Linked DNA regions of Homo sapiens. The protein of the gene in region 1 interacts with the protein of each later gene in a pairwise test. Each region holds a gene or a part of one and is shown on either strand. Other genes may lie near its edges.

Evidence for each region.
Region 2: the proteins of RDX (region 1) and KIRREL3 interact in binary tests that used the Homo sapiens proteins (3 or more experiments, as listed by UniProt).
Region 3: the proteins of RDX (region 1) and DRD3 interact in a two-hybrid assay, tested with the Homo sapiens proteins (one study listed by BioGRID).

Annotation. Positions count from the first base shown.
Region 1 is NC_000011.10:110,256,367-110,267,104, reverse strand, and holds part of RDX (radixin), read left to right. Parts: intron 1-2,230; coding exon 2,231-2,326; intron 2,327-2,870; coding exon 2,871-3,145; intron 3,146-8,915; coding exon 8,916-8,999; intron 9,000-9,191; coding exon 9,192-9,338; intron 9,339-10,738. UniProt on the Homo sapiens protein: Probably plays a crucial role in the binding of the barbed end of actin filaments to the plasma membrane.
Region 2 is NC_000011.10:126,420,033-126,430,770, reverse strand, and holds the end of KIRREL3 (kin of IRRE-like protein 3 isoform 1 precursor), read left to right. Parts: intron 1-1,482; coding exon 1,483-1,592; intron 1,593-5,046; coding exon 5,047-5,133; intron 5,134-5,747; coding exon 5,748-6,191; 3' UTR 6,192-7,413; downstream 7,414-10,738. UniProt on the Homo sapiens protein: Synaptic adhesion molecule required for the formation of target-specific synapses. Required for formation of target-specific synapses at hippocampal mossy fiber synapses.
Region 3 is NC_000003.12:114,173,784-114,185,006, reverse strand, and holds the start of DRD3 (D(3) dopamine receptor), read left to right. Parts: upstream 1-5,954; 5' UTR 5,955-6,350; intron 6,351-8,813; exon of another isoform or gene 8,814-9,081; intron 9,082-11,223. UniProt on the Homo sapiens protein: Dopamine receptor whose activity is mediated by G proteins which inhibit adenylyl cyclase. Promotes cell proliferation.

The DNA.
Region 1 (10,738 bases):
TAGTGAGACCCTATCTCTACTAAAAATATAAAAAATTAGCTAGGTTTGGTGGTGCATGCCTGTGGTCCGAGCTACTCGGGAGGCTGAGGTGGGAGGATCACTTGAGCCTGGGGTGGGGGTGGAGGTTGCAGTGAACTGAGATTGCACCACTGCACTCCAGCCTGGGTGACAGAGTGAGACCCCGTCTCAAAACAAACAAACAAACAAACAAACCAAGGGCCAAGCGCAGTGGCTTGCATCTATAATCCCAGCATTTTGAGAGGCTGAAGTGGGAGGATCACTTGAGGCCAGGAGTTTAAGATTAGCCTTGGCGACATAGCAAGACCCCTGCCTCTACAGAAAACAAAACAAAACAAAACAAAAAAAAACATTAACTAGGTGTGGTGGAATGTGCCTCTAGTCCCAGCCATTCAGGAGGCTGAGGCAGGAGGATTGCTTCAGCCCAGGAGGTCAAGGCTCCAGTGAGCCGTGAATCACACCACTGTACTCCATTGTGGGTACAGAGTGAGACCCTGTCTTTAAAAAAAAAAAATAAGCAAAAACTCCCACAAAAAACCAAGAATGTTTATTATTTAAGAACTGATATTGAATCTTTCTGTAAAGCTTTTAAAATGTTAATGAACTTTTACCTCCCCTGGATCATTTTCCTCATTTTATTTTAAATACAGATTTTTTTAAAAAACATATGCTTTTGTTAGGTGTGGGTAAGTCCTGGGTGTGTATCCTAACTCCACCACTTTATTTACTCTTACTTTATTTTCTTTTTTTTTTTGAGACGGAGTCTTGCTCTGTCGCCCAGGCTGGAGTGCAGTGGCACGATCTCGGCTCACTGCAAGCTCCGCTTCCCGGGTTCACGCCATTCTCCTGCTTCTGCCTCCCAAGTGGCTGGGACTACAGGCGCATGCCACCACGCCCAGCTAATTTTTTTTTTTTTTTGTATTTTTAGTAGTGATGAAGTTTCACCGTGTTAGTCAGGATGGTCTTGATCTCCTGACTTTGTGATCCGCCCGCCTCGGCCTCCCAAAGTGCTGGGATTACAGACGTGAGCCACTGCGCACAGCCTACTTAGTCTTACTTTTGAGTATCTACCACAGGCTGATCATTCTGTGAGATGCTATGGATTTTAAGACACATAAATCAATAATCTCTGTCCATAAGTATTATGCAGTCAAGGAGGGTAAATAGACACACTGCTAATAACACAATTATGATAGAGTAAATTTTCTAATAGCAGGATAGATAAAGTCCTATGGGAATATCAGGGAACAAGTGATTAATTTTATCTAGATGGTAGGAGAGCTTTATTCACAGAAGGCACGTTAGTTGAGCTTGTCCTTAAAGAATAAATTGTTCAATAAGTCATAAAAATACAGAAGACCCATTCTAGGCAGAGGAAAAAACATCAGCAAAATTGTAGAAGGGTGGAATTTATGGTATGTTCTAAGAATGGTTTCTTGCTCAGTGAAGGTAGAACATGGAATATATCAGACTTTTCTTATCACCAAAATGATACCATTTGCCCTAAATATACCAATAGGGTACTTGTGGGGGTAAATAGAAATTGGAACGTATGATTATGAAAACTATATATATATATATATATATTTTCAAGACTCTTGTTATTGTTGAGGTCATGATAGATAAGGAAAAGGAGGTATGAAAAAGTGGATCAAGTAAGAGGATTGAAGTGACACTACAAAATTGAGGATTAGAGGCCAGGTGCAGTGGCTTACGCCTATAATCCCAAGACTTTGGAAGGCCGAGGCAGGCAGATCACCTGAGGTCAGGAGTTTGAGACCAACCTGGCCAACATGGTGAAACCCCATCTCTACTAAAAATACAAAAAATTAGCTAGGCGTGGTAGTGCATACCTGTAATCACAGCTACTTTGGAGGCTGAGGCAGGAGAATCACTTGAATGGAGACGGAAGTTGCGGTGAGCCAAGATTGTGCCATTGCACCCCAGCCTGGGTGACAAGAACAAAAAAAAAAAAAACAAAAAAAAAAACTTCTTTTCAAAAAAAAAAAAAGAAAAATTGAGTATAGAAAACTTGAATTTGAGTTTTCAAAAATGTTCCTTTAATATCTTAAATTTAGGGAAAGCCTTTTCTATGGCAAAGGAATATACGTATACTTACATAGTTTTGTTCTCCTTTTGAAGTGTAGTATCATCTAGACACAATGTGTATGTTGGACTGAAATTGTGTTTTTTTGTTGTTGTTGTGTTTTAGGTGGTGAAAACAGTTGGTTTGCGTGAGGTCTGGTTTTTTGGGCTGCAGTATGTAGACAGCAAAGGTTATTCTACATGGCTTAAACTAAATAAAAAGGTAAAATATGTACGATAACATTAAACTAATAATTATGTTAAGTTGAAGTTATGAATTTGTGCTGGAAAAGCTAAGTCTGACTGATTGCAAGCTTCCTTTTGTAGTTATCTGTTAATCATTATGAGGTACCATGTTTTTTTAAATTCAATCAGGCACCATCAGCTTATCATCTCAAAAAAAAAAAAAAGAAATGCTTACTTTTCCTATTTGAAAACTTAGCCTATAACAAATATTAAAGCAGATATTACAAATGGCATACTAAGTACTTCAATTTTGATGTAAATACCTGTAGGATAAGCTTCTCAAGAATATGAAAAAAAGTTTTCAATTTGGTTATTAGAATCTGAGTTATAGGTCACATTCAAGAGCATAGAATCTTTTACCACATATATTTGTTTACAGATTTAGACTATTACACACTAAAATCTTCATAGATTTAGAATCTATTTCACTTCATTTTCTTCCAAAAAGAATTTGATGTGACTAGGTCTAATTATTGTAAACTTAAGATTTTTGTTGATTATACTTGAAATTATTTTTCCAGGTAACACAGCAGGATGTTAAAAAAGAGAATCCTTTACAGTTCAAGTTTAGAGCTAAATTCTTTCCTGAAGATGTTTCTGAGGAATTAATTCAAGAAATAACCCAGAGACTCTTCTTCTTGCAAGTTAAAGAAGCCATCTTAAATGATGAGATATATTGCCCGCCAGAAACTGCAGTTCTTTTGGCTTCCTATGCTGTCCAAGCCAAGTATGGAGATTACAATAAAGAGATTCATAAGCCAGGCTACCTGGCTAATGATAGACTCCTACCCCAGCGGTAAGTGAAACATGCGTTTGCATTATATTGTCTGAAAATTGTATTCTAGAAGTCTATAAATAAAACGTTTTTCAGGTTTTTTTTTTTTTTTGGAGACAGGGTCTGGACCTGTCACCCATGCTGGAGTGCAGTGGCGTGATCTCAGCCCACTGCAACCTCTGCCTCCTGGGTTCAAGCCATCCTTCCACCTCAGCCTCCTGAGTAGCTGGGTCTATAGGCACATGCCATTATGTCCGCTAATTTTTTTTTTAATGTATTTTTCATTGAGATGGGGTTTCATCATGTTGCCCAGGCTGGTCTCAAACTCCTGAGCTCAAGTGATCTGCCCGCCTCAGCCTCCCAAAGTGCTGGGATTACAGGCATGAGCCACCGCACCTGGCCTCTTTTTTTTTTTTTTCCAGATTTTAAGTTGCCAGCTGGATCATGGGGTATACTTCTAAAAATCATTACCTAGCACCTCCATAGATTTATATGCTCTGTAATTACCTAAGGTTGATCTATCTCTTCTTTCCTCATTCCCATAGGGTAAGCAATAAATGGAGGCAGTGATAATTTGGACTTGAGGAAAGGATGTGACTGTTGCTGCTTGGTACAAATTCTAACACAGGCAGGTGCTTAATAAGTGAGAGTAAGTGGCAGGCTGTGTTTTCTTCATAGAATTCTCTGACTTTTTCCCCCCCCGAGATAGAGCCTCACTCTGTCACCCAGGCTGGAGTGCAGTGGTGCAATCTCAGCTCGCTGAGATTGGAGTCTGCCTCTCAGGTTCAAGTGATTCTCCTGCCTCAGCCTCCCGAGTAGCTGGGATTACAGGCATCTGCCGCCATGCCCAGCTAATTTTTGTATTTTTAGCAGAGACAGGGTATCACTATGTTGGCCAGGCTGGTCTCGAACTCCTGACCTCAAGTGATCCTCCCACCTCGGTCTCCCAAAGTGCTGGGATTACAGGCGTGAGCCACTGCTCCTGGCTGAATTTTCTGACTTTCTGAAAAGGCTTTTTAAACTAGGTTTTCAGACTCCTAGGCTGGTGCATTGTTCTTATCTACAGTGTACTGCTGCTTCTATAATGGCTATTTTAAAATAATATGGCATAGGAAAAAATTATCAGAAGACCTAAATTTTGAGTACCGATTCCACCCTTTGCTATATATGTGACCTTAGGTACATGACCTAAAACCTCTGAGCTCAGTATCTAAATCTGCAAAGTGGGGATAATAATCCTTCTCTGGCTACCTTCTAGTTTATGATTATAATTAATGAACTATATGATTTACAGTTTTAATTGTCAAGTGTGAAACGTGTTATTTAGTAGTATTGATGGAATCTAGAAGATGGAACATCAAATATTACTTTTTAATTTTTTTTTTTTTTCTTTGAGATGGAGTCTTGCTCTGTTGCCCAGGCTGGAGTGCAGTGGCACGATCTCGGCTCACTGCAACCTCCGCCTCCCGGATTCAAGCGATTCTCCTGCCTCAGTCTCCTCCTGAGCAGCTGGGATTACAGGCACACACAACCACACCTGGCTAATTTTTGCATTTTTAGTGGAGATGGAGTTTCACCGTGTTGGTCAGGCTGGTCTCGAACTCCTGATCTCAAATGATCCACCCGCTTCGGCCTCCCAAAGTGCTGGGATTATAGGCGTGAGTCACCATGCTCAGCCAAAATTCAATTATTAAATGTCACAGTGTTCCGCCCTTTAATTTTGTAGCAATAGTAGTCACCTTGGAAAAGGATAGAATTATGTAAGTTGTTCACCAAGAGAGTCAGGAATATGAGATATCTGATAGTCTGTTTATATTCTGGTTTTGAATGTTATTCTAACCTAAGATTCTTCATCTTAGATTACTGAATTGAGTAATCAGACTATTATGGTGGAATTTCATTTCATATAAGGATTACCTTTTGTTTTATAATCAGAATTACTTTAATTTTTTTTTTAAATGTTAAAGAATAGGAATGCTTTATCTAAACAAGTACAGCATTGATCTTTCAGTGTTAAGCCAGATTGCTGTTTGGTTGAGCAGCAGATGAAGTAATTGGCTTACATTTCATAACTCATGTGATTGAAAAAAATCTCTTAAACACTACAATAACACACAAGCACAGTTTATTTTAAATATGGGTGTGCTCTAACCTACTCTATTTAAAAAGAAGGAAGGTGGCTAAATGCTTTAGATAGGGTTGCTTGTGGTTGCTAGTGCAAATGCCTATTTCAAGATTTGTTCCTTAATTTTGTAGGTCAGTTGTTCCTTCAGAGTTGATATTCCATGGAGGACTAATTCAAGCCATGTTATCTTAAAATGAGACTTAGTCATAAAGTTAGAATACCATTTTTTTTTCATTTTCTGTTTAGAACAGAGAGGATATTTTCACAGTGATTGGCTTATTCCAGTATGGTATATCGGACACTTTTTCTCAGTATCTAAGTACAGTCTGGGGAGGAAATGAGTAATTAGGTTATTTGGTGATAACAAATCAAATAAAATAATTTAGTGATTCTGATACATTCTGATTTCTTGTATTGAAAAACCCAGATGAGCAATCTGTTCTTACTGTAGAAAAGTTTAGCTCTTGTGGTATAGATAATTAGCTCCACCAGATAGTATTGCTTCCCTTTGAAAAGAGCTAAATATACATAAACTTTTACATACCAGGTTTCTGACTTGGGCGGCTGGGTATTTGGTAATACCTTTTATCAAAATGAGTGGAAGAAAAAATACATTTGAGGGGGAAGATGAATTCAGTTTTGAACCTATTGAGTTTGAAATATGTGCAATATAACCAAGAGAGATATCTGGTATTTATTTGCATATGTGGGTGCAGACCTTTTAGAAACAGTCTTGGACTATAGATACAGTTTTGGGAGTAATCAGTGAATAGATGGTAATTAAACCATGAGAATGAAAGAGATCAACCTACCAAGTACATAAAAATGAGAAAAAGACCTAGGACAGATCTTGTTGGACCTCAGCTTTTGTCTTTGGGTTCTGCATTCACAGAGTCAACCAACCACAGATTGAAAATATGTGAAAAAAATAACACAGCAATGAAAAGGTACAAAATTTTAAAAATACAGGATAACAATACATAGCATTTGTAGTGTATTAGTGTATTATTATACTACATAGTAGTAATAATATAGTGTATTAGTATTATTAGCCTAGAGATGATTGAAAGTATACAAGAGGATGTGCATAGGTTATATGCAAATATTGCACCATTTTATATCAGGGACTTGAGCATCCACAGTTTTTGGTATCCAAGGGGAGTCCTGGAAGCAATCCTTTATGGATATGGAGGGACAACTGTACTGAGACACTGGCCACAGATTCAAGAATAATTCTATACTAGAAGATGGCTGGGCATGGTGGCACATGCTTGTAATCCCAGCTACTCGGGAATCTGAGACCTGAGAATCACTGGAACCCGGGAGGCGGAGGTTGCAGTGAGCCAAGATGGCGCCACTGCACTCCAGCCTGGGCGACAGAGCGAGACTCCATCTCAGAAAACAAGAATAATACCAGAAGAGTATTATATCATGGAAGCCAAGGTAAAAGAATACTTTGATGAAGAGAATGGTCAGCACTGCCAAATGGTACCAAGAGGTCAAATATGAGGAGAACTAAAGTATCTGTTGGAATAAGGAGCTTGGTAGTGACCTTAGAAGAGCAGTTTCCAGCCGGGTGTGGTGGCTCACACCTGTAATCCCAGCACTTTGGGAGGCCGAGGTGGGCGGATCACCTGAGGCTGGGAGTTCAAGACCAGGCTGACCAACATGGAGAAACCCCGTCTCTACTAAAAATACAAAATTAGCCGGGCGTGGTGGTGCATGCCTGTAATCCTAGCTACTGGAGAGGCTCAGGCAGGAGAATCGCTTGAACCCGGGAGGTGGAGTTTGCAGTGAGCCGAGATCATGCCATTGCACTCCAGCCTAGGCAACAAGAGCGAAACTCTGTCTAAAGAAAAAAAAAAAAAGAAGAACAGTTACCATAGAGTATTGGGTGTTTGAGCCAGATTATGGTAGACTGGGGGCAGTGGATGTCAGGTATGGAAATTGAGGTTAGTGTATAATGGACAGTCCATAAAAGAAAGTTGTCTCTGAAAAAGAAAAAAAAATAGGGGTTGGGAAAAATTGATTAATTCATTTATTCACTCTACAAATTTTCGAGGCCCTCTTTAGTACTGGCATTGGGCATATAATTATGGTAAGCAATTGACTGCACTGGGTTATGTCTCCAAGGCTGATTGCATGCCTCTCTGTGAGCCCAGAGGCCAGACAGCAAGAAAGACAAGAAACTGTGGAAACCTAAGCTCTCTCAGAAGGAAGATGAAACTCTTCTCCCCAAAAGCAAGAGCTTGGAAAAGATGCCTAGAGAAAGGAGCAGAGTATAATAAGAACATAACAGTATGTCTGAGACCCCTTTAAGGAATTTACTCTAAGTAGTAGGTAACTTATCCAGGGGGAGATTTTATCATTCCTTTATGCTGCCAAGAAATCCTTGGGTTTCATGCAAGATTTTTTATATAGTAAAACAGTAATATTTTAACACCACAGCTTCTGCTGTCAGTAAAGTAGGATCTGGTAAATAAAGGTGAATAATTATCATATGAGCCAAAGAGAATAGAAGTCACAAACTGTAGTGTGCATAGTAGGTAACTTATAATCATGTTGACTTTGCTGATTTGGTGTTAAAATAGTAGTAGTAGAATATAATGTTTGTATTTGGCTGGGCGTGGTAGCTCACGCCTGTAATCCCAGCACTTTGGGAGGTCGAGGCAGGTGGATCACTTGAGGTCAGGAGTTCAAGACCAACCTGGCCAACATGGCGAAACCCCGTCTCTACTAAAAATACCAAAAAAACACACAAAAAAGAAAAATTAGCCAGGCATTATGGCGCACGCCTGTAATCCCAGCTACGCGGGAGGCCGAGAGCATCGTGGCACACACCTATAATCCCAGCTACTTGGGAGGTTGAGACAGGAGAATCACTTGAACCCAGGAAGCAGAGGTTGCAGTGAACCGAGATTGTGCCACTGCACTCCAGCCTGGGCAACAGAGCGAGACTCCATCTCAAAAAAAAAAAAAAAAAAAAAAGAATGTATTTGCTCACATTTGAATTAAGAACACTGGAAGGATACAAAAACAAGTTATTTGGGGGGTATTGGACTGGAGTATGACTTTTCACTCTACTTTTTAATTGAAAGTATTACCTACCTAAAACAACAAAATTAGTAGCAAAAAAGTAAATACATAAAGGAAGAATTAGGGCCCAAGAATTCTGGTTTTCAGTCTGGTCTTTATCTATTAACAATGAGCCATTTTTTTATCTAATGTTTTATTCCTTTGAACTGTTTGGGTTCCTATAAGCTATCTTTGTAATCACTTTATGGAGCAAGTATTATTTCAAGGAATTTAAGGATCCTAGACACTTAACTTTGAGATAATTACTGATTATTATGCAGTTGTAAAAAAAAGAGATCCCTGGTATCCTTCTCCCAGCATTCCCTGATGGTAACATCTTGTGTAACTACAGTACAATATTACAAACAAGATATTGACATTGGTACAATCTAGCCACCTTATTCAGATTACATCAGTTTTACCTGCACTCATTTCTGTGTGTATGTAATTTAGTTCTATGCAATTTCATCATGTGTATTAATTGTCTGACAACTACCACAGTCAAGTTACTGAAAGGATTCTTTACTTTTAAAGTGTATGCTTTTGAATCTTAAAGTCATTATAATTTTTTTTTTTTTTTGGTCCTCTTAGTGTATTGGAACAACACAAACTAACAAAAGAACAGTGGGAAGAAAGAATACAGAACTGGCATGAAGAACATAGAGGAATGTTAAGGTATTTGGGTAGCTATTTTCTATGTTTTCTTTTTTCCTTCAAAGTATTTTCATGTCGTAACATTTATTATTACATTATTTCCAAAAGATTGTTTGACTTATGTAAAGTACTAATTTTTAATTCCAGGTATTTTGCAACTTTAGTTTGATATGCTCCTACTTAAATATATTACATTTAGTTTTATTTCAACAGGGAGGATTCTATGATGGAATACCTGAAGATTGCACAAGATCTAGAAATGTATGGAGTCAACTATTTTGAAATAAAAAATAAAAAAGGAACTGAATTGTGGCTAGGTGTTGATGCTTTGGGTCTGAATATTTATGAGCATGACGACAAGTAAGTAAATTAGTTGCATAGTGAACTAGTCATTGTTCAGTGGTCTAAATGACGTTAATCTTATGTCCTGTTTTTCAAAGTAGTTTCTTGTCTTGATTACCCTTACTATTTTCAAACTAAAAGATGAATTAATGACACATAGACTTGTAGATATTTTACCTCCATTTTCTTATCACCTTGCAGTTTCAGAGTTCTACTTTTCAGTGTATTTATCAAATGAGATGATTGACTTTTATTTGAATTGTGCTGCTTTTAGCTCTTGTGAGTTATGTCTAGTAACTTAATTAAAATTTGCTCCCTCGATAGGTGAGAAATAATTCTTTAAAATGCTATTATGCTTGACAAATAGATTGAAATTGAACATACATAAGAAATCAGGAGCAATGAGAGAATGGATTTAATAAATATGTCTATCACATCTTAGAGGATTTTTTTGAACATTTATATATAGGAATTGTTTTAAATATGTTTGGACATTAATACAATAGAATATCCCTGTATTACACATATTGAACACTGTAATTATATCTTGAAATTGACCAAATAGTTTTTTATTATACATATATAATTCATCAATATTTTATTATATGTATAATATATGTATATTTACATATACATGTATATGTACTATACAAATACATGGGTAAATACTATATAGAGACGGTATATTATACACATACACATGCAATATAAAATACATCAGACTCTTACTTTTCAGGATTAATAACTCAATTGTCTTAGACTTTAATTTATTTACCATACCACATAAGCATGCAAGTCTATGCCAGTAATTAATGCCTTTTCCTAAGGCATTATTCTTTATTCTAGGTTGGCTCCAGAATTTTAATTTTTATTACTACAGATATCTAATAAAATACTAATTTCAAAGCATATGTGATTCCAAACAAGAGCATTTTACTATTTTTACCCTAATATCTTCTCATGTTTTTATTACAAAGCAAGTTAGAAGGTTATATCATTTAGAAGAGAAATTTTTGAAAAGCAAAAATGACTTCAAGACTAATTTTTGTAAACTGAATCTTTTTCTTTTGTTTTAGAGAATGGGATCTTGCTATGTTGCCCAGGCTGGTCTTGAACTCCTGGCCTCTAGCAATTCTTGCGCCTCTGCTTTCTCCAGTGCTGAGATTACAGGCGTGAGCCACTGTGCCTGGCTTCTTAATTTTTTTGGTGGTGGTGGTTCTGGCACATATTGGAGCAATTTTTTTAAATGTTAAAAAAGTTATTGTATTAGCTTCCAGGCTTACCTCACAAGAGTGTTATGAGAATTATATGAGGCAATTGCTTTAGAATTTTTCAAAGTAGCATATAAACGTAGCATAGTGTTCTCTAAAATACTATGTTGCATTCCTGCAGTCTCCGTTTTAAGCATGTTACTTTGA
Region 2 (10,738 bases), about 16 Mb from region 1:
CAGTTATTCCAGGCCTGTCTCCTCATTTATAATGAGGATATGACTCTGATGGCCCCATCTGGCACTAACATTATATAAGTGTAATGCAAAAAATGAATCACCAGAATGGGTCTGCTCCTCTGCCACTCGGCAGCCTGCACATGTTTGAAGAAAGCTGTTCCCCTTGCATTTTCTGCACTCCGAGCTAAGCAGCCTTGGCTCTCAAGACCACCCCAGCAATGATGTGGTCTCAGGACCTCCATCACCACCGTCTCAGTGGAAATTATAGGGAAGCATACAAATATATACACATACGCATATATACACATATATATACGGTTTTTTTTTATATAGGGTCTCTCTCTTTTGGCCAGGCTGAAGTGCAGTGACACGATCTCAGCTCACTGCAACCTCCGCCTCCCAGGTTCAAGCGATTCTCGTGCCTAAGCCTCCTGAGTCGCTGGGATTACAGGCGTGTGCCATCATGCCTTGCTATTTTTTTAATTTTTTGCAGAGACAGGATTTCACCATGTTGCCCAGGCTGGTCTCGAACTCCTGGCCTCAAGTGGTCCGCCTTCCTCGGCCTCCCAATGTGCTGGGATTACAGGCGTGAGCCACCGCACCAGCTCCTCAAGAATTTCCTTTTTTTTTTTTGAGACAGAGTCTCATCCTGTTGCCCAGGCTGGAGTGCAGTGGCACAATCTCGGCTTACCGCAGCCGCTGCCTCCCGGGTTCATTCAAGCGAGTCTCATGCTCAGCCTCCCGAGTAGCTGGCATTACAGGCACCCACCACCACGCCCAGCTAATTTTTGGATTTTTAATAGAGACGGGGTTTCACCATGTTGGCCAGGCTGGTGTCAAACTCCTGACCTCGTGATCTGCCCACCTCGGCCTCCCAAAGTGCTGGGATTACAGGCGTGAGCCACCGCACCCAGCCAAGAATTTTCTAACAGAGCTCTCCAACTAGAAACAGCCTGCCTCCTGCAGAAGTAGCAGTAAAGCTTCCATCACGGAGGCGTCGACAGAGAAGCTGCCCACTGCCTCAGGGGCGTTTCTCTTTGGATGGGGGTTGGCCATGGGCACTTTGAGGTCCTTTCCAACACTGAGATTTATGGTTCTATGAATGGAGGGATTGGAGCCCGCCTGGTAGAGCAGGTCAGAGAAGACTTCTAGAAGGAAGTGAGAATTCAGTAGGATGAAAAGGACCTAGCTCAGTAAGGCGGACAAGTGGCTGAAGACGATCTTTCAAGCCAAGGGTGCATGGCTGAGGGGCATGTGACAGGAGGCAGGCCGGCCATGGGGTCAGCCTCCTCTGAGGCCCAAACACCCACAGCATCTCCATATGGAGGTTCTATTGGTGGGGGGCTGGTGAAGCTGCTGAGTTCAGGGGCTGGAGGGGAAATGCAGAGGGTGGCAGGGCAGGGGCAGGGGACTGCAAGGGAGCTTGACATCTCAAAGGTAAGAACTAAATCTATCATCTACACTTTACTATTTTATCTCCAGATCTCAAAGGTGTTGTGTCAGCCAAAAATGATATCCGAGTGGAAATTGTCCACAAGGAACCAGCCTCTGGTCGGGAGGGTGAGGAGCACTCCACCATCAAGCAGCTGATGGTAAGAATGCAATTACGCCCCATCCCATCCCGTGACTCCATTCCCAGAAGGTCCTGGGACTAGAGGCTTCTCAATGAACTAGATGCTTCCAAAAAGCAGAGCAGCGTTCAAGATGCCCCCTGCCCACCCCACAATAGGTGAGGCACACACTCTCAGCCAACAAATGTGAGTGTGTGCCTGCTGTACTGTGCTTGTGTTCTGGCAGACTCAAAGACATCTAAGATGCAGTCCAGGCCAGGTGCAGTGGCTCACGCTTGCAATCCCAACACTTTGGGAGACCGAGTTGGGCGGATCACTTGAGATTAGGAGTTCGAGACCAGCCTGGCCAACATGGTGAAACTACATCTCTACTAAAAATACAAAAATTAGCTGGGCGTGGTGGCGGGCGCCTGTAATCCCAGCTACTTGGGAAGCTGAGGCAGGAGAATTGCTTGAACCCAGGAGGTGGAGGTTGCAGTGAGCTGAGATCAGGCCACTGCACCCCAGCCTGGGTGAGAGCGAGACTCCATCTCAAAACAACAACAACAACAAAAATGCAGTCTACCCTTCAGAGAGCCTGGCTCTTCAGTAAGGAGAAAAGACATATGCATAAATTGCCACAATATGTTGTTATATAACATATAATCCCCTCCCCTCCCCCGCACACACACACATAGCTATTATAGATATTCAATACATGTCCCTCTCCCTCATCCCCCGCACCCCACCAAAACAGTCTGCAAGAAACACAGGTTCCTCCTTGGGGACTGGATTGCCAGTCAACTCATCACTTCTCCAGGCACATCAAGCCTGCTCCTCCTCTTCCGAATCCCCATTTATGGGCCATCATCTACCTAGTTGTCCAAGCAGAAACCTGGACAACCATGCTAGAAGTTTCTGGTTGCCTCGGTCGTAACATGTTGGAGTGGAGGCAGCAGAGCAAGGAATATAGTAGATGGGCTTTCTGGTGCCTCCATGTCCTCATCCATGAGATGGGTCTGAAAGCCACAGTATACAGGGCTGTGGTGAGGGTGAAGTGGACAAAACTCAGAAGGGCTTGAAGCCCATGGAACACAATAAGTGCTCAAGAAATATTAGCGGTTTATGTTGCTAGAGGGTGAGCAGCTGCTGCTGTGTTCATCCCGGGGTCTTCGGAGCCTTACACAGGCCCTGGTAGAGGCTCACAGACGTTTACTGAATCAAACTGACTTTTCCCTCGGCTACGCTTTCTCTCTCCAATTGATTTTCAGGTCCTGTCAATTCCACTTCAAAAAGTGTCTCAAATGTGTGCCCCACCTGTCCTCCACCATCACTTCTTTACTTCAGGCCTCATCATTGCTCCCCTGGATGATTACAGCAGCCTCCCAGTTGGTCTCAGCCTTGTAGTCTTTTGTCTCTTTTCTCAATCCACCCTCGAGAGCCTTGAGAAAGCAGCCTTTCTAAAATGCAAATCTGGTCCTGTTACTTGCCCACTTAAAATCCCTCGGTGGCTCCCCACATCTGCTGGACAAAGCCCAACTTCCTGGTGTGCCATCAGGGCTCCTCAGTGCCAGGCAACCACCAACCTCTCCAGCTCCATTTTCCGGCCAAGTACATCTGGCCTTCCAGACATGCCAAAGAGCTTGATTCCTGGCCTTCGAATCTTTTGGACTTCAAAGGCCTGTGCACCGGCTGTTCTCTCTGCCTGCTAATTTTGTCTGTTGAATCTCACATTCTCCCATAACAATCAACTCCAAGATGTTCCGGGCTTGTCCTCCCCACCCCTGGCGGAGCTGTGCACCTTCTGCTCTCCCAAAACACTTTGTATGTGCCTCCTTTATAGTGCATTCCCCCAATTCCATGTCAGCTTCCCCAGTTATCCCAGAGCTCCTCAAGGGCAAAGGTCATGTTTCTGAGTCTACGCTCATCTATTTCCCCTGGGGCCTAACACAGGGCCTGACACTGTTAAAATTAACACAGTGGAGTGTTTAGTTTTACGAGGGAGGAAACCACAGCCTAGATGTGAGAAGGGATGACGTCTCTATACTTAAGCTTAATCATGTGTGTCCTTCATCCCAAACGGGACCTTGAATTCTCTCCCATCGGCAAACATTCTGTTTGCCTCAGACTGTCTCCACATCCCTTAGTCCAAATCCACAGGCAAGAGTGGGGGCAGCTCAGTGTCAGGTGGGAGCAGAAGGGACTTGCTGAGGGCTCTGGGCTAAGCCACCCCTTGAGGATATCGTCATTCTCGCATTCCCTTCACCTCCTGGCCCCAAGACAGCCCCATCTGCAAGAAGGGGCAGACTTAGAAGTTGAATCTGATGGGAAAGAAGGTCTCCAGTCCAGACAGTGCCAGAGCATTTACTGGAAAAATGAACCGCATGGTCTCCTTAGTGAGGAGGCAGCCGGGTGGCCGCACTTTGGCTGATTCTACAGGGCTCCAAAAAGAAACGAGGAAAGCAGGTTGCAAGGGAGAAGAAACATCCCGGCCCAGAGAGTAGGAGGGAACCTACTACCTATACCGTGCAACTAGCAGAGACACATGGCAAGCCTCTCGTGTGTCACAGGTTAAGCATCACTGTGGTTATTCAGATTAATTCATATGCCCACTGTGTGTGGAGTATGCTTTTTCATCTTATGTCTAATAATTTTGTTAATTTTCAGTAATTTAGAGCTAAGCCACTTTGCCTATTCATTCAACATATACATACCATTTGAAGCAGCTCTATTGTATATCAGGCACTGTGCTAGGCATTGGCAAATCAAATAATTAAGAGATTCCATCCCAAAAGCAGGCAAGGTCAGTGACCACAACATGCAAAGCACTGAACCAGGTGTGGGAGGACCCAGAGACAAGCAGGAAGTGATCCTTGCCCTCAGGCTGTTTGGCATCTCTAAGGAAGTTAACTTTTCATGAGAATAACAGGTGTGGCCCATGTCGCCAGCATCTCACAGATGGTTATTCCTTGTGACTCCCTAAGGCCTGCACTAGGCCTGCACGCTGGAAAAGAAACTGCCCTAAGGAGCCTTGCCATGCCCAGTGACTGACATTCTGAAATTATTTATCTACAAGTCCATCTCCCTGATGAGCAGAGCTGTATCTTAATGTACGTTAATCTGTGGATCTCTGGTCCTTAGCAGAGCAACTGGCCGGCATTTTACAATAAACGTTCAGTCAATGGAATTGAATCAGCCATGGGAGATCTCTGGTGATGCCCTCGCCCAAGCGAGGAAAGTATGGCCTCGGATACCTGCCCCTCGCCTCCCCTAACTGCCCCTCACCTCACCTACTCACCCACCCCCCTCAACTGCTTCCCTGTCTCCTAGGATGGGGCTCCAGGAACTCATCTTGACTCTTTCACATGGTCCAGGCAGTGAGGGGTGGTGGGGGTTATACAGGGCAATCTTTTGAGTTTCTGATCTCATCTTTTCCTTGGGGGAAGTGGAGGTTTAGCCACCTCCTATCTACTGAGCAGCCTTTTTTGGGTTGCAGATGGACCGGGGTGAATTCCAGCAAGACTCAGTCCTGAAACAGCTGGAGGTCCTCAAAGAAGAGGAGAAAGAGTTTCAGAACCTGAAGGTAAGAAGGGCCCCGGGTTATAAGACACAGCCATGGAATCTGGTCTTTAGCTCTGATGGCCCAAACCCCAAATCTATACAACAAATGACAGCAAGTCAGAGAAGAAAAGGTCAGAGGCCAGCTTGGTGGCAGGTGCCCGTCCCTGCCTAAGGCACCTCCTCTCCCTACCCCAACGCTGAGGAGGCTGAGAGAGCTAAGGCTGAGACTCCCCAGTTCTCTTCCACAGCCTCCTCACATGTAGATTCAAAATGAAGCATCCATGTTCTGGATAAAAACAATTAAAAAGCCTGACTTTCAAATGACCCTGCATTGCCCTGACATAAACCCAGTCAAGAGCCTCTGCTTCCCTCCTTCGGCCCTCAGCCCTCACCCTTGCCGTCCCTCCCCTCCTGGGGTCCGCAGTCCCCCTTCTGCCATCTCCTGTTCAGTGTCCTTCTTCCCCTGCACCTTCCCTGCAGCTGTTCACCCCTGAGTTTGCTCCCTACCAGGTTGCTCCCTTCCTCCTGTTTTCCCTCTTCCCTCCCCGCATAAGGGGACGGGCTCAGCCTGGAAACCCCAGCCACGCTCAGTGGAGACTCCACCAGGTGACGCTCCTCTTCCTCTCGCCCATCCAGGACCCCACCAATGGCTACTACAGCGTCAACACCTTCAAAGAGCACCACTCAACCCCGACCATCTCCCTCTCCAGCTGCCAGCCCGACCTGCGTCCTGCGGGCAAGCAGCGTGTGCCCACAGGCATGTCCTTCACCAACATCTACAGCACCCTGAGCGGCCAGGGCCGCCTCTACGACTACGGGCAGCGGTTTGTGCTGGGCATGGGCAGCTCGTCCATCGAGCTTTGTGAGCGGGAGTTCCAGAGAGGCTCCCTCAGCGACAGCAGCTCCTTCCTGGACACGCAGTGTGACAGCAGCGTCAGCAGCAGCGGCAAGCAGGATGGCTATGTGCAGTTCGACAAGGCCAGCAAGGCTTCTGCTTCCTCCTCCCACCACTCCCAGTCCTCGTCCCAGAACTCTGACCCCAGTCGACCCCTGCAGCGGCGGATGCAGACTCACGTCTAAGGATCACACACCGCGGGTGGGGACGGGCCAGGGAAGAGGTCAGGGCACGTTCTGGTTGTCCAGGGACGAGGGGTACTTTGCAGAGGACACCAGAATTGGCCACTTCCAGGACAGCCTCCCAGCGCCTCTGCCACTGCCTTCCTTCGAAGCTCTGATCAAGCACAAATCTGGGTCCCCAGGTGCTGTGTGCCAGAGGTGGGCGGGTGGGGAGACAGACAGAGGCTGCGGCTGAGTGCGCTGTGCTTAGTGCTGGACACCCGTGTCCCCGGCCCTTTCCTGGAGGCCCCTCTACCACCTGCTCTGCCCACAGGCACAAGTGGCAGCTATAACTCTGCTTTCATGAAACTGCGGTCCACTCTCTGGTCTCTCTGTGGGCTCTACCCCTCGCTGACCAGAAGCTCTACCTACCCCTGTGCCTGTGCTCCCATACAGCCCTGGGGAGAAGGGGATGACGTCTTCCCAGCACTGAGCTGCCCCAGAAACCCCGGCTCCCCACTGCTGCTCATAGCCCATACCCTGGAGGCTGACAAGCCAGAAATGGCCTTGGCTAAAGGAGCCTCTCTCTCACCAGGCTGGCCGGGAGCCCACCCCCAATTTGTTTGGTGTTTTGTGTCCATACTCTTGCAGTTCTGTCCTTGGACTTGATGCCGCTGAACTCTGCGGTGGGACCGGTCCGGTCAGAGCCTGGTGTACTGGGGGGAGGGAGGGAGGAGGGAGCCTGTGCTGACGGAGCACCTCGCCGGGTGTGCCCCTCCTGGGCTGTGTGACCCCAGCCTCCCCACCCACCTCCTGCTTTGTGTACTCCTCCCCTCCCCCTCAGCACAATCGGAGTTCATATAAGAAGTGCGGGAGCTTCTCTGGTCAGGGTTCTCTGAACACTTATGGAGAGAGTGCTTCCTGGGAAGTGTGGCGTTTGAAGGGGCTGGAGGGCAGGTCTTTAAGATGGCGAGACTGCCCTTCTCAGCTGATAAACACAAGAACGGCGATCCTGTCTTCAGTAAGGCTCCACGAGAAGAGAGGAAGTATATCTACACCTCAACCCTCCTAGTCACCACCTGAAATAAATGTTAGGGACACTACTCCAACATGTTTGTTCTGTTCTTTTGTTCCTACAAAGCCACAGGAAGAACCCAAGAGCTCATAGAATGCGTTGGGAACCCAAGGTTCTCTGCCCTCCTTTGATTCAATCTTCCTAGACAATAAAGGCAGTTGATAGCTCTGATTGTGGTGGCAATTAAACCTACAGGCTGACTCCTCTCCCCTGTGGGTGGATTCAATCCAGAGGACGTGTGGGACTCACCAGCCACCTGACTCAGCCAAATATAGCTCAGAGGCAGAGTGGTCACACTAGATACTGGCCAGGCCATTCTGGACCCTTCCTCTCAGCAATATTCTGAAGGCAAAGTTCCCTCCTCTAGAGGTTCAGAGAACAAGACCCGCTGGAAAGAGTCTAGACCACCAGGCACCCTAACATTTTAATATACAACTCAAATAGTGTTCTAAGAAGGGCCTCGCTTGTGGGTAAGTTTGATGTGGTCATGGCAGATGGGGTGGATAAACAGGGGCAAGTTAGAGTGCTCGTTGAGGGAGTGGGATTCAAATGGAACTTTAAAGAACCCAAATTGTCCCTAAGGTGGCTTGGAGGTTCCTTGTCAGTTTTAAACCTTTCTTCTCCAACCTTCCCTGGTAGTTCTTACCCATCATGGGAACCTTCATCACACCAGTTTGTGCTTCTTTCCAGACACTGATTCCTTGGATGGTCCCAATCCACAGATTCTATACACAGCCTACACAGCTCCTCCACTCAGAGGAATTTTCTGCTTCGATCATATTTCCAAGTGCTTCGAAATTTCCCAGAAACCTGGCTATCTTCCTTTGTAGCCCCTAAGCCTGAGGGAGTAAAAACTGATCAGAAATGTTAAGTGTATGTCCACAGCCCACATTCTGCTGCTGGTACCATGCTGGCCTAGCATAGACATCAGGATGCTGGCCCCTGCCCTCTCTAGGTTAATCTCAGCAAGCTTGCTTGCTTTCTTTCCATATATGTTTTCCATTGGCTAACAGAGAATAAGGATCCAAGACCATATGCACAATGCCTTGGTGTGCTGGAATAAGGAAAAGATGACTTTAGAGGATCTGTTCATTTACTTCTCTTATTTCTCTTGGTCTTCCCACCTTGGATATGCGTAGACCATTTACCTCCTAGTCCTCAGCACAGCTGACCCTGCCCCTTGCTCCTGCTACACACACACACACACACACACACACACACACACACACACAGAGTGTGCACTAATAGGGTGGAGGTGCCCATTCTTCCATTCTTTCCTGGAAACCAAAATTATAAACGAGAAGAATGGGGAAGAAATATGTTCTATAAAATAAGCCCTTTGTCCTGTCCCTCGGCACACCCAGGGTAAGAATATGGACTGAGCAGAGCGCACCGGGGCAGCTGCAAACACTAGGCTGCACGGTGCCCAACCCTCTTAGCACTGTCCAATGCCCAATGCAGCAAAGAATAGCCCAAGGGATAGGAGGTCACAAGGATGATCTTTGTGAGAGACAAGAGCATGGAGGGAAAAAATGAGGGGGATCTGGAGGACTCTGGGGCATTGAGAAGCCTGAACTGAGCTGAGTACATCCCTCAGCTGTCTCCAGCACTATCTATTTCTCACAAATGAGTGGGGGTGCAGAAAAGCTGGTGAAGGGAGGTGCTGAAAAACAAAGGCAGTGGGAAGCCCCGAATTCCCCCATAGGTGATTTCACATTAAATAAAATGAGTGCTCTACATTTGTAATCTTATTTAATGCTCACAATTCTACGAAGTATCACCATTTTACAGATGTGGGTTGAGGCTTAAAGAAGCCAGAAAACTTGCCCAGCGTCAAGCGCTAACGAGTGACAAACATGAGCTTTATACACACATTCATCCTAGAATGTCGCTGGAAGTGGCTGATGGTAAAGGCCATCTGCTAGCATGCGCTCTGGGGCAGGCCGGGCGAGGACAAGCACAGCTCCATTAGGAAGGCAAGACTGTGCTAGCATGCGCTCTGGGGCAGGCCGGGCGAGGACAAGCACAGCTCCATTAGGAAGGCAAGACTGGCGTCCTCCACCCTAAGTCCCCAAATGACCCGGAAAGACCACAAAGCCCTGGGAAACAAAGCTCTTCTGTGTATCAAATCACCCCCACCTCTACCAAGGACGGCAGCCAGTCTTCCGATAGCTTTAAACTTCATTACTGGCTCAGAGTCACTGGACGGAGGCCCAGTCTCTAATTCTCAGGTTCAAGATCAGTCGGCCAAGGCCAGGGTTATTTCCACCACCTCTTCCACTTTCAGGGAATAGGAAGTACTTTCACGTGAAGAGCAAAAATGTCACATCAAATCCATTTCTGACGAAGCCTTTTTGAACAAATTCTATAAAGCAAGAGGCCATGAAGCCGATTTTAAGTTTCCAGAATGGAAAGGAGCCAGGGAAATGAAAACAAACATGGTGCAGTCCTTGGGAGATTTCTTAGAACAAGAGAAAGGAGTCAACCAAAATTCCATTTCTCACTTCCTGGTTGGAGAGGAGTATGTGCTGCTTGGGTCATTTGCTATTATGGAATCAGAACCGAAGGCACAAGGTACATACACACACACACACACACACACACACACACACACGTTTGATTAGTTCTTCCCAGGTATTATGTGTGCGGTTTGTCCTGGCACCAGAAAAAAAAAAAAAAAAAGACAAAAGGGAGTCTTGAGATTAGTTTCTTCTCTGGGAGCTTTCTCTATAAAACACACTTTTTATTGAAATAAAAATATAAAAATGTAAATAAAGACTATCTTAATTTGCAAATAGATTTTTATTTTAAATGCTCCTTGGTGTGCACATCTAAAGAAACAAACACTTAGATGTAGACCAATGACAACTAAATCTTAAATTTCACTTCCCCTTTCAAAACGGCTTTTGAAAATCTCTTATCTAAGTTGTTCTTAGGAACTGTAACCACATACCAGCAATTTGCAGCTTTCAAATCAAAATTAGCAGCAGTCTCTGGGAGTCACTGATAAAGAGCTCATTCACTGATAGCCGCCTCTCATTTCCAGTGAGCCTCCAACCATCCTTTCCCCAACTCCTTATGTTTCAGTGTTCCTAACCAGGTCATAAACTGAGAAAAATTTTAAAAAATTTAAAAGCTCCTCTTCTTTCTAGAAATAAGGAATTGTTTTCCTGGCCAAGTCCATGTTTGCCGCAAAACCATTAATTCTTTCCCTCTCTAACCGCCATTCTTCCTTGGCCCTCCTCCCGTCCTCGCTAACAGCAAGTTCTTTGACATACACTGAAAGCTTTCATTACTACAAGCCCTATAAGTCTTCCTACTCCCACAGCCTCCATCTTTAAAAGGCCTTCTGTGAATATACACCATTCACAAGATACGTCATCAAATTGTCATCTACATCCCTGGTTATATTTATGCCTCTGCCAATATCTGCCTGCCACTCCATGTTCCCAGTGCTTTTCTCGGAAACAGTCCACTTAGCCCACCCACGGGGCTG
Region 3 (11,223 bases), on another chromosome or scaffold:
CTTTGGTAAGAATATTAACAAATTTCTCATGAGAAACTTTGGCCCATCAGGTAGTGGGACAACGTATTCAAAATGCTAAAAGAAAAAAATACCTGTCAACCAAGAATTTTATATCAGAACAATTGTCCTTCAAAAGTGAAGGAGGTCAGTTGCAGTGACTCACACATATAATCCCAACATTTTGGGAGGCCAGGGTGGGCAGATCACTTGAATTCAGGAGTTCGAGACCAGCCTGGCCAACATGGCAATACCCTGTCTTTACTAAAAATGCAAAAAATTAGCCAGATATGGTGACATGCACCTGTAGTCCCAGCTACTTGGGGGACTGAAGCAGGAAAAGAAGGAGAACATAAGACATTGCCAGATAAACAAAAGCTGAGGAGCATTACCACATTACCACTAGACTTTCCCTGCAAGAAATATTCAAGGGAGTCCTACAAGGTGAAATGAAAGGACATTAGACAGTAACTTGAAGCTGTATGAAGAAACAAAGAGCTCAATAAATGCAAGGACCTTTATAAAAGCTAGTAGTATTTTGCTATCTACATAATTTAAGAGACTAATACATTTAAAAGAAAACAATCATTAGTCTAAAAGCTAACATTATTGTAACTTTGGTTTGTGGCTCCATGTTTTGTTTTTTATATAATTTAAGAGACTAACGCATTTAAAATAATTATTAGTTTATGTTTGGTGTTACACAATATATAAAGGTATAATTTTATGACATTAACAACCAAAAAGAGTGAAGAAAGAATAGTAGAGGACCAGATATTTTATGTTATTGAAGTTAGACTGGTATAAACTCCAGTTAGAGTATTATAACTTTAGGATGTTAAATGTAATCTCCACTGCAACCAAAAAGAAATAGTTAAGGAATATAAACAAAAGGAAATAAGAAAGGAGATTAAACATTTCACCACAAAACATCAACTAAACACACACAAAAAAGAGTCATGCAGAGTGAGATGTGGGAAAGCTATAAGGCATATAGAAAACAAATAGCAAACAACAGAAGTAAGTCCTTCTTTATCAGTAATTTCTTTAAATGTAAATGGATTAAACTACCCAATCAAAAAACAGAGATCAGCAGAATGGATAAAAAACACATGATTGCTGGATATACTGTCTACAAGAAACTAACTTTAGATCCAAAGACACACACAAAAATAATAAAAAAGAGAAAAAGAAAACAAAGATACAATAGGTTGAAAGTGAAAAGATGGAAAAGGATATTCATGCAAATAGTAACCAAAAGAGAGCAGGAATGGCTAGACAAATATCAGACAAAAATGAATTTAAGTCAAAAAATTATGAAATAAAAAAGGGTATTATATATTAATAAAATATTTAATACAACAAGAAAATAGAGCAATTTTAAACATTAACATGCCTCATAACAGACGATCAAAATACATGAAGCAAAAACTGGTAGAATTAAAGAGAAAAATATACAATTCTACATTAATAGTTGGAAACTTTAACATTCCACCTTCAATCACAGATAGAACCACCAGACAGAAAATAAGTAAGAAAATAGAGGATATAAACAACACAATAAACCCACTAGACCTAAAAGACATATACAGAACACTCTACCCAACAACAATGATATGCACATTCTTTTCAAGTACACATGGGACATTTTCCAGGATGGGCCATATGTTAGGCCACAAATTGTGTCTCAATAGATTTTAAAAGACAAATGTCATACAAAGTCTTCCCTGATCATAATGGGAGGAAATTAGAAATCAATAACAGAGTAAAACTGGAAAACTCACATATTTGTAGAAATTAAACAACACACTTTTAAAGAATCAGTGGATCAAAGAATAAATTACAATGGAGGCATAATGCTCTTGAGGATGTGAAGATATTGGAACACTCATGCACTATTGATGGGAATGTAAAATGATACAGCTGCTGTGGAAAACAGTATGGTAGTACCTCAAAAAATTAGAAACAGAATTACCACATGAACCAGCAATTCCATTTCTGGATATATATCTAAAAGAGCTGAAAACAGGATCTCAAAAAGATATCTGAACACCTATGTTCATAGCAGTGTCATGCACAATAGCTAAAATGTGAAAGTAATTTAAGTGTCATCCATAGATGAACAGAAAAGCAAAATGTGGTACAATTGAATATTATTCAGCCTTGAAAAGAAAGAAAATTCTGACATATACTTCAATATCAATGAATTTTGAGAACATTATGCTAAGTGAAATAAGCCAGTCTGAAAAAGACAAATATAGTAGGATTCCACTTATATGAGGTACTTAGAGAATCGCTTAAACCTGGTAGGCTGAGGTTGCAGGGAGCCGAGATTGCACCACTGCACTGCAGCCTGGGTGACAGACGGAGACTCTGTCTCAAAAAACAGAAAAAGAAAAAAAGAAAAAATTAGATGATGATGGAGGGTAGTAAAAAACAGGAAGAAAATAGGTCGAAAAGTTAAGATAGAAGTAGAAAAGGGAGGTAACATGCAAGCACACAGAAGGGTAGATGCAGATATAAAAAACCACTATCATTTATTTATTTCCTTCCTTACTATTACTCTGCTACCTATAATGAGTGATTTGGTACAAATCTGATTGATTGAGAAGCCTCCTTCTGTTATTTCCTGCCATTCTCTTGTAGAAAGGAAGAAAGTGGTGCTCAATATTAGATAATAATAAGTGAGTTGAACTATTTTTCTTTCAAGAACTGTATTACAGCAGCAGAATGAATTCAAACATAAAACCTAACACTTTCTCAGATGGTTCTCATCTATCACCAGATCTCATTGGAGAGGAACAGGGGCTAAGGTTGAGAAGAAATAACCATACTACTGGACCACTCACTGCATTTGCCAACTTTCATTTACACTTTTACAACTTGAGGTCTGATTCCAGTGAAAAACATACTGAGAGGCTCTTGTTCAGACCAGATCAGTATCATGCAGTTTAAGATCATCATGATAATCAAATCTTCCAGTTCACAGTAAGGAATGCCAGTTATAATAAGACATGGAAACAAAATGTTCCTTTATTCATATAGGTCCTGCAAATTGCCTCCCCATAATGCTTCATTTAGTCTCCATACTGTCCTAGTGAGTGGGAACTCAGTGGGGGTTTAAAGTGGTGTACTCAATGGTCGGTGCTCAAGGCAAGGTTTCTTGTATCATTCCCTGGAACAGCATTTCAAAGACAAGAAGAGAATAGTCCCACCACAAACTTCACATCAATTTCCTTTCAAACAAAATCACTGAGTAACCATATGTATCAGAAGCCCACCATCTCTCTTCTCTTGCTCTAGACTTGCCACTTCAAGTTGAAAACATAAAGACTTTCCCTGATGAAGGGCCATTGGCTAGTACATGAGAATGTTCCAGCCATGCTATTGAGATGGAGTTTCTGGAAGGAAGATGAAAAAAATGATCTATATTTTTCTTGATTTCTGCCCAGGCATATCTCTTCTGTAGGCATCTTGGAGTTCTTCCCAGAAGGCATATCTCAATGCCAATCATGAATAAGGGTTCCACTTACTTAAAAGAATAAAATTGTTTGTTGTTGTATGAATGGGAAGTGCCAGATAAAAGGAGCAATTGCTAATCTTCACCTATAGTGAAGTCCAGAGAGAAAGGATCACTTCATTTACCCTGCTTCTCTTCTATTTCCACACCAATCCCTCCCCATTCACCACGGGGGTCAAGGAGTCTACCAGAGACAGCTAAGTCAGAACAGAGTTGACTGCCTAGATGTGTGATTTTAGGCATGTCAGTTAATTTTCCTGTCTCTTGTTCCTACACAGAATTAGAGTCTATATCACTCTTTATCTTCCTTTTACTTTTGCCAAAGGAAGGCACTAAAAACATGCTGAGGAATATCTTGCCAGCATTTACAACTGCCCTTGAAGAGAGAATATGTGTTCTCAACACAGAAAGTTAGAAATAGGGTTCTTCCTACTACATTCACGCATTATCAAGATAGCATTATCATTAGGCACAATGTCTTCAAATGTTAAAGAAAATAAACATAGGATACTGAAACGTGAAAACCATGTTGCTGAAAATGAGTGATATGAGGTTCTTAACTCCTTAGAAGGCCTTTGCTTCATTCTGCTCACATAACAGCCTGACATTACTCCCTGCTTTTATATGTCAGACAAGCCAAGTTTTAGCAGTGCATATTCTCTTGGTCCCCTTATCCAAGGGAAGAAAAGCCTTGGAGTTCACATTCAACCCAGGAGTTCTAGTCTTAGGGCATGTTCAATATAGTTATGTCATATAACTAATACATTTATGCCCAATAAGTTATGGGCAACCTTGGATATGGAACCTAACCTCTCTAACCCTCTGTATTAGTTTGCTAGGGATGCCATAACAAAATTCCACAGGCTAGGTGAATTAAACAAGAGAAATTTATTTTTGCACAGTTTTGAAGGGTAGAAATCCAAAATCAACAGGGTGGCAGGTTTGGTTTCTCCTGCAAGACCCCTCTCCTTGGCTTGCAGACAGATGCCATCTTCCTGTGTCCTTTCCTCTGTGTGCACATTTCTGGTGCCTCTTCTTTTTCTTATAGGAAACCAGTCATATTGGATTAGGGCGTACCCTCCAGGCCCCATTTTAACTTAACTCACACTTCAAAGATCTTACATCCAAATACAGTCATGTTCTAAGGTTAGGGCTTCAACACTTGAATTTTGGAATGACACAATTTAGTCCATAACAGCCTCTATAAAGATGGCATCATGAAGACTGATGTAATATAATTTACAGAATGATTTCTAAATCATCTAAATGATTTCTAAATATAATTATATACAAATGTATTATTAATATTATTATTACTGTCATAATTATTATTCTCTCTGACATATTATCAGTCTTTTGGGAAGTTTAAATTTTCTTCTTTTGGAAGACTATACCATAGTGGTTAAGAGAATTAGGTTGTTTAGATCCAAATCTTGGGTCAGCCACTTGTTAGCTGTGTGACTTTCAGACATTATACTAACCTCCATAAGCTTTAATTTTCCTATCCATAAATTAAGGATGGTAAAAAATAGTACCTGCCTTGTAGGGTTGTTGAAAGGATTAAAAGGAGCAATGCATTAAAATGACTGGCTAAAAGTACATGCTCAATAAATGATGGTTGTTATCAATAGCAGTATTTAGACCTTGTTGATGCTGCTGCCTTCTTTCTCAGCCAGCAGAGGTCTCCATCATAGTCAAACAAGAGCTAGCTTCCCTATAACTGCACCGCAGTTGCCAAGCACATCCACTGTTGGCAGAGAAAACAGCCGAAGAATTACCACACTGACCAAACAGAGGAGAAAAAAAAGAGAGAGAGAACAGGAAATGGTTAGGATGCCACAGTAAAATGTAAGATGAACAGGTGACCATAAGTTAGGATTGTTTATGTTCTACTGCTGACTTTCACTGATATTGTCCTTGGTTGCATCTCACTTTAGCTTGTTCCAAACCAGTTTTAAAAAAGGTATCTATGTATATATCACAGAGAAGCAGTAAGAATGAATTGGCAAATATTTATGAAGTCCTCTGAAAACAAGAAGTGCTGCTAAGTAAACATTTAACATTTCTTACAGTATTAAGCTTATTTCATCCTTATTGCCAGTTATACGCCATGCCTCAGTTTTGCTACCTTTGTAATATGTTTCCTTTAACCTTCTTTTCCCAGACAGGCTTACACCTCCAAGTTCAATTATCCTGTCAATTGTGTTTTAAATTGTACTGATTTCCATTAACCAATTGTGGTATCAATTTGATGATCTGTTCCTTCTGAACTAATCATCTTTACACCCACCAAAATCTGGAAAGGCAATTAAACTGAGGAAGGTGAGAGTTATTCAAGAGAAATTAAAGCATAAAGGTAAAAACAGTGGAAAAACTAAGATTAAAAAGAGCACTGAGGAGAAAATATACATGTACTAAAAAGCACAGTATCCGAGCAGATAGAGAGACAAAGAGGAAAAGAGAGCGAGGTAGAAAACGGATACTGCCTATGCCTACTCCATCCCTCTTTCAGCACCAAGGACAGAACCTCTGAGCGGCTGACCCAAGCAACGCTCAGTTTAGGGTCCCTCCCAAATCCTCTAAAGAAAACGGATACATTCGAAAGCAGCTATGAAACATGCACTAAGGTCTAATAGGGAAGCTGGAAAAGCAGCACTCAAGTAATTTCACCTTAGAGGCAAAAATGGGTGATTTCTTTCTGTTCATTTCATAGTTTCTGAGTCCTGAGAAAGGCAAAGTTTGCTTTGCTTGGGTATGTCTGCTGTCAGTAAATGGCTGCAGGAGCCGAAGTGGTAAACTCCTCGGTCTCCAGAAATCAGAAGAAAATTTTAGGGTAAGTAATTTTTCTTTTCGTTTCTAATTTAGGACATAGTATTTTCCTCAAGGTTATTTAATCAGCTTGGGGTTCTGTGGATCTCTAAAAATATGCATTAAAACTCAATATCCACTCTTATTTAAAAACCAAAGCCCTGAGGAAATGGTTTTCTTTTTCTTCTAAGTGGTTGGACAGCAGAAACCTTTTATATTCCTTTTTCTTTTATTTTTTCCCCCAAAATTGTATCCTTGTGGGCTCTAGAAGCTATATCAAGGAAGAATTAAAAGATAGAAAACAAAAAGCTGTTATTATTTCTAGGATTTGTATGGAAGTTGATTGTATTCCTCTTAAGGATTTTACTTAATTGTAAGGGTCTGTTATTTTAAACTCCTCAATTCAGCACCCTGGCAATTCAGAGCTGAAGGTTTGGAGAGGCACTATTTTCAATGGTCTATTTAAAGTCAGGCTGTTTCTAAGTCAGAATCCAATTATTCCCAGCAGAGATATGTAGTACTTGAGATGATGATTGTGTATGTTTCCTTTGATGATGGTATATGATTTTTAGGGTATTGTTATTTAATTGTGAGACTTCCATTACTTGCTGTAGCTTACTGGGGCAACAGAAGTCATTGCAATTAGGTATTTGTTCCAGTTCATGCATTTAGTTTAATTGAATACCATCAAAATACATGCATGAATAATAATGCAGCAATAGCAAAGTGAAACTTGGATTCTAAACTCATTGTGCATGACTATTTCACTTTATAGGTGAAGCCTTTGCTTACTGATACTAAAAGGTCTGTAAAATATCTGTCCTTAGATAAGAGTGAAGAACCACTGCTTGACATGGCATTAGGATGTCTTATAGTCAAGGAGAAGTAGAGACAATGTGAGAAAGATTCTTACTCGGCACTCATTTATTTGTAGTTGAATATTTTCAAGGGTCTGTATGGCTAGCAGTGAGCAAGGGTATTGAGCAAGGAAAATACTGACAGTATCCAAATGGGTGCCTAATATTAAAGCATCCATACAGAAGGCTATTTGTTATGGAATATACATTAAAGCAAATACCGAACAGTTTCTACTCAATATCAGATTCAATTTCTAATGCATTGAAGTTTGTCATCAATTAATATTTGCTTATTGATTGATTTATTTGCTGAGTTCCCCATTTTATCTCTGATTAGAATGGTAGGATGCTCAGTCTCTAGAGGTTGTGAAGGAAAGTGAGTATGCTCTGCTTTACTAGTCAGGTTTAATGAGGGGAAAAAACTGTTATCTTAGCTACTCAGTAACCAGCAATAGTTTTTCTCTGTACATTTACCAACAATGTAAATGTGCCCAAATACATAAATATGCTATGTATTGCAATCCATTTGTGAATCTTTTTCAGGAAAATAGGCAGCAATTTGCAAGAAGAAAGTAGCATAGAAATGCTAAAGACTATCTCTAATAATAATAACAATGTAACTCCCACTGGCTCTATGAGCAGTGTGCACCTGCATTACTTCACCAAGCCTAGTCAGATGATGTGACATGTTCACATACTCTGAACAAGTGAGATTGTAAAATTAGTACCCATTTCACATTTGTCTGCCTCACCCCAAAAAGTGGCATAGTTAAGTGGCATAGTTAAGAACATGAGCTCTGGAATCAGACAAATCTTGGGTTGAATCAACTCCATCATTTACTGGTTTGTGATCTCAGCAAGATATTTAACCTCTCTGTGACTCACCTTTTTTATCTAGAAAACTTGATAGGATAATAGTGCTTACCTTCTTCATCAGGTTGTTGTGAGGTTGAATGATGATAATGCTTATAAATTTTAGCTATAATTATTAATTTTATCAGGCAATATAGCAAGTCCGAATTACAGCCCAGACCAGAAAAGCTCTGGCGACTGGTGGTCAGGAGTCGTCTGAGTAAAAGATTAGATGTAGCAACAGCCAGAGATCTGTGAAATGAGTGAAGATGTGGTCATGGAACCCTGTTACTGAAGCGTTTTGTTCTGGGTTGAGTAAAATCCATCTCAACTCGGGAATGACAGTTTTGTGGGTTTTTTTTTACTTTGAGACAGGATCTTGCTCTGTCACCCAGGCTGGAGTGCAGTGGCACAATTATAGTTCACTGCAGCCTCTAACTCCTGGACTCAAGCAATCTTCCTGCCTCAGTCTTTCGAGTAGCTGGGAATACAGGCACATGGCATCACACGCAGCTAATTTTTCTTTTCTTTTATTTTTGCAAAGATGGAGTCTCACTATGTTGCCCAGGCTGATCTCAAACTCCTGGCCTCAAGTGATCCTTCCATCTCAGCCTCCCAAAGTGCTGGGATTACAGGAATGAGCCCCCAAGCAGGGCTGGGAATGACTAACGTCAACTTCCATGCTGCTATAAGTATTAAAATGCATGTAAAGTACTCATACTTGCCACACAGTAGTAGCCCAGATGTAGTTGTCTTCATCTTCATTTGTTTTCTTACAGAAAGAGAACAAATAATTAAAACTCTGTAAGTCTTAATGAGGTGCTAAGGAGGAACCCCACGAATGTTTCAGGAAGACTGTTATTCAGCACTGAGGGATTGAACATCAGCAAAGCAGGACAAATGTCATAACTGATGGGGACCTGACAACTCTCTGTTCCCCTGCCTTTTTAAATAGGTTATGCACTCACTCTAAGAGATGCCAGAACAAACTATAAAGACCAAGATAAATCAATACTTTGTAAGGCATTTAAAAGCTCATTAAAATGTGTAAGTAGTGTTATATGTAATGAATCTTAAAAGACTGACGCCAAGAGTAATCTTCTATTTCTCTGCCTTCTCTATTCTTTTACCTCCTATCCACTTTTAACTCCTAACACTGTTTGCTGGACTTTTTCCTCTGCCAAGAGGTTTGACAGCTACCTAAAAATAGTATAGCTGAATGCCAGTGGCTAATTATACAAAGGGAAACCCTCAACTCTGAAAATCAATTCTGAGCCTGATGTTGGAATCACAGTTGCATGGATTTCTGATTTCATATTTATTTTTTCCACATCTGATCTTAGATCCTTTATAGCAGAAGGTGGGTTAAACCGTGATTGTTCAGGTAGTTTCTGATGAGTTGTGGATGTGGGAGATGAAAGCAAAAATGAGTGAGATGCTAGATTACTCTCTGTCTCTCAGCTAATTGTTTCAACTTCCTCCCTGCTTAGATTTTGTAAGCATGAATGCCATCATGAATATCGTCCTGAATGTTTAAGCATGTCATCATGAATGTTGACATGATGACATTAAGAATGTCTTCATGAATGTTTAAGCATGAATGCCACCATGAATGTCAGTCATCATTTCCAAGTTCACTAGATACTTTACAATTGCAGCTTATTTAACTCTTCACCTATTCCCACTTTCCTCTTAACAATAAAAGCAACTATATTTCTAGTGCTATGTGCCAGACATTATGCTAGAGTGATGATTCTTCATGGGGAGAGCAATTTGCACCCCCGCTCCAGGATATGTGGCAATGTCTAGAAGCATTTTTTATTGTCCCAACTTGTGGGGAGGGGTATGCTACTGGCATCTAGTGGGTATATGTAAAGGATGCTGTTAAACCCCCCACAATGCACAGGACAACCTCCTCAACAAAGAATTATTCAGCCCAAATTGTCAGTAGTGCCAAACTTCATGTATATAATCTCATTTAGTCTTCATAATAACCTTATGGAATGGATATGATTATCTCCATTTTGCTGATGAGGAAACCAGCCTATCATTGTAAATTACTTAGAGAGTGATTGAGTTAATGAATTCTCTAGGCTCTTTGCTTCTTCTTACCTGAGACCCGTTTCCTATCTGTTAGCATATCTAACAGAGGGGAAAAGAAAGAAGAAAGCCCAGCTCAGTTCTGTGTTATATAAGCAACTCTGGTTTGAAAAAAAAAAAAAAAATCTAAGCAGGGAGGAAGTTGAAACAATTAGCTGAGGGATAGAGAGTAATCTAGCATCTCACTCATCTTTGCTTTCATCTCCCACATCCACAACTCATCAGAAACTACCTGAACAATCACGGTTTAACCCACCTGCTGCTATAAAGGATCTAAGATCAGATGTGGAAAAAATAAATATGAAATCAGAAATCCATGCAACTGTGATTCCAACATCAGGCTCAGAATTGATTTTCAGAGTTGAGGGTTTCCCTTCGTATAATTAGCCACTGGCATTCAGCTATACTATTTTTAGGTAGCTGTCAAACCTCTTGGCAGAGTAAAAAGTCCAGCAAAAGAGTAACAAGTATCCTAAGGTTTTATGCCTCCCTCTTACGTGGCAGGTGAGAGGAGGCTAAGACATTATTCACCAGTTGCAGACCCCAGAAAAGAGGGATTCTGGCCACTGTGTTCCAAAGTGGCCCAGTTGTGAAAGGGAAGACATTTGGGCCTCAGCCTGCCTTAAAAGTGGGAATATCCTTGAACAATCAGAAAGCATTGTATTTTTCCAAAAGCTCTTGGCAGCAGCGGTGCTATCTCCAGGGTAGCGGCTGCCCTCCTCTGAATAATGAGAAAATTATAATTATTATCAAGAATTATTATTATGTTTTAAAATACATTGAGTGCAAACAGTGTGCCAAGATAAAGGACAATTTTTTTAAACAATTCTCTAAATTCATTCCAAGTTTGTCACCCTTTCCCAAGTATTTGTTCATTTTAACTCTTTCATATTTCAGGCTGAAACATTTCAAAGTGAGGTACAAAATGACAGCCATGATTAGGCCGGTCTCCTAATCAAGGGAGAGCTACAGATACCTGGCTTGAGGGCAAATTCTGGCCACCAAGTCAGCCTCTACTTTTGCCAAGGCCTGAAGAGAGAGTTCCCATAAAGGTCTATATGTACCATGCTTAAATATTTTAAAGTTGTA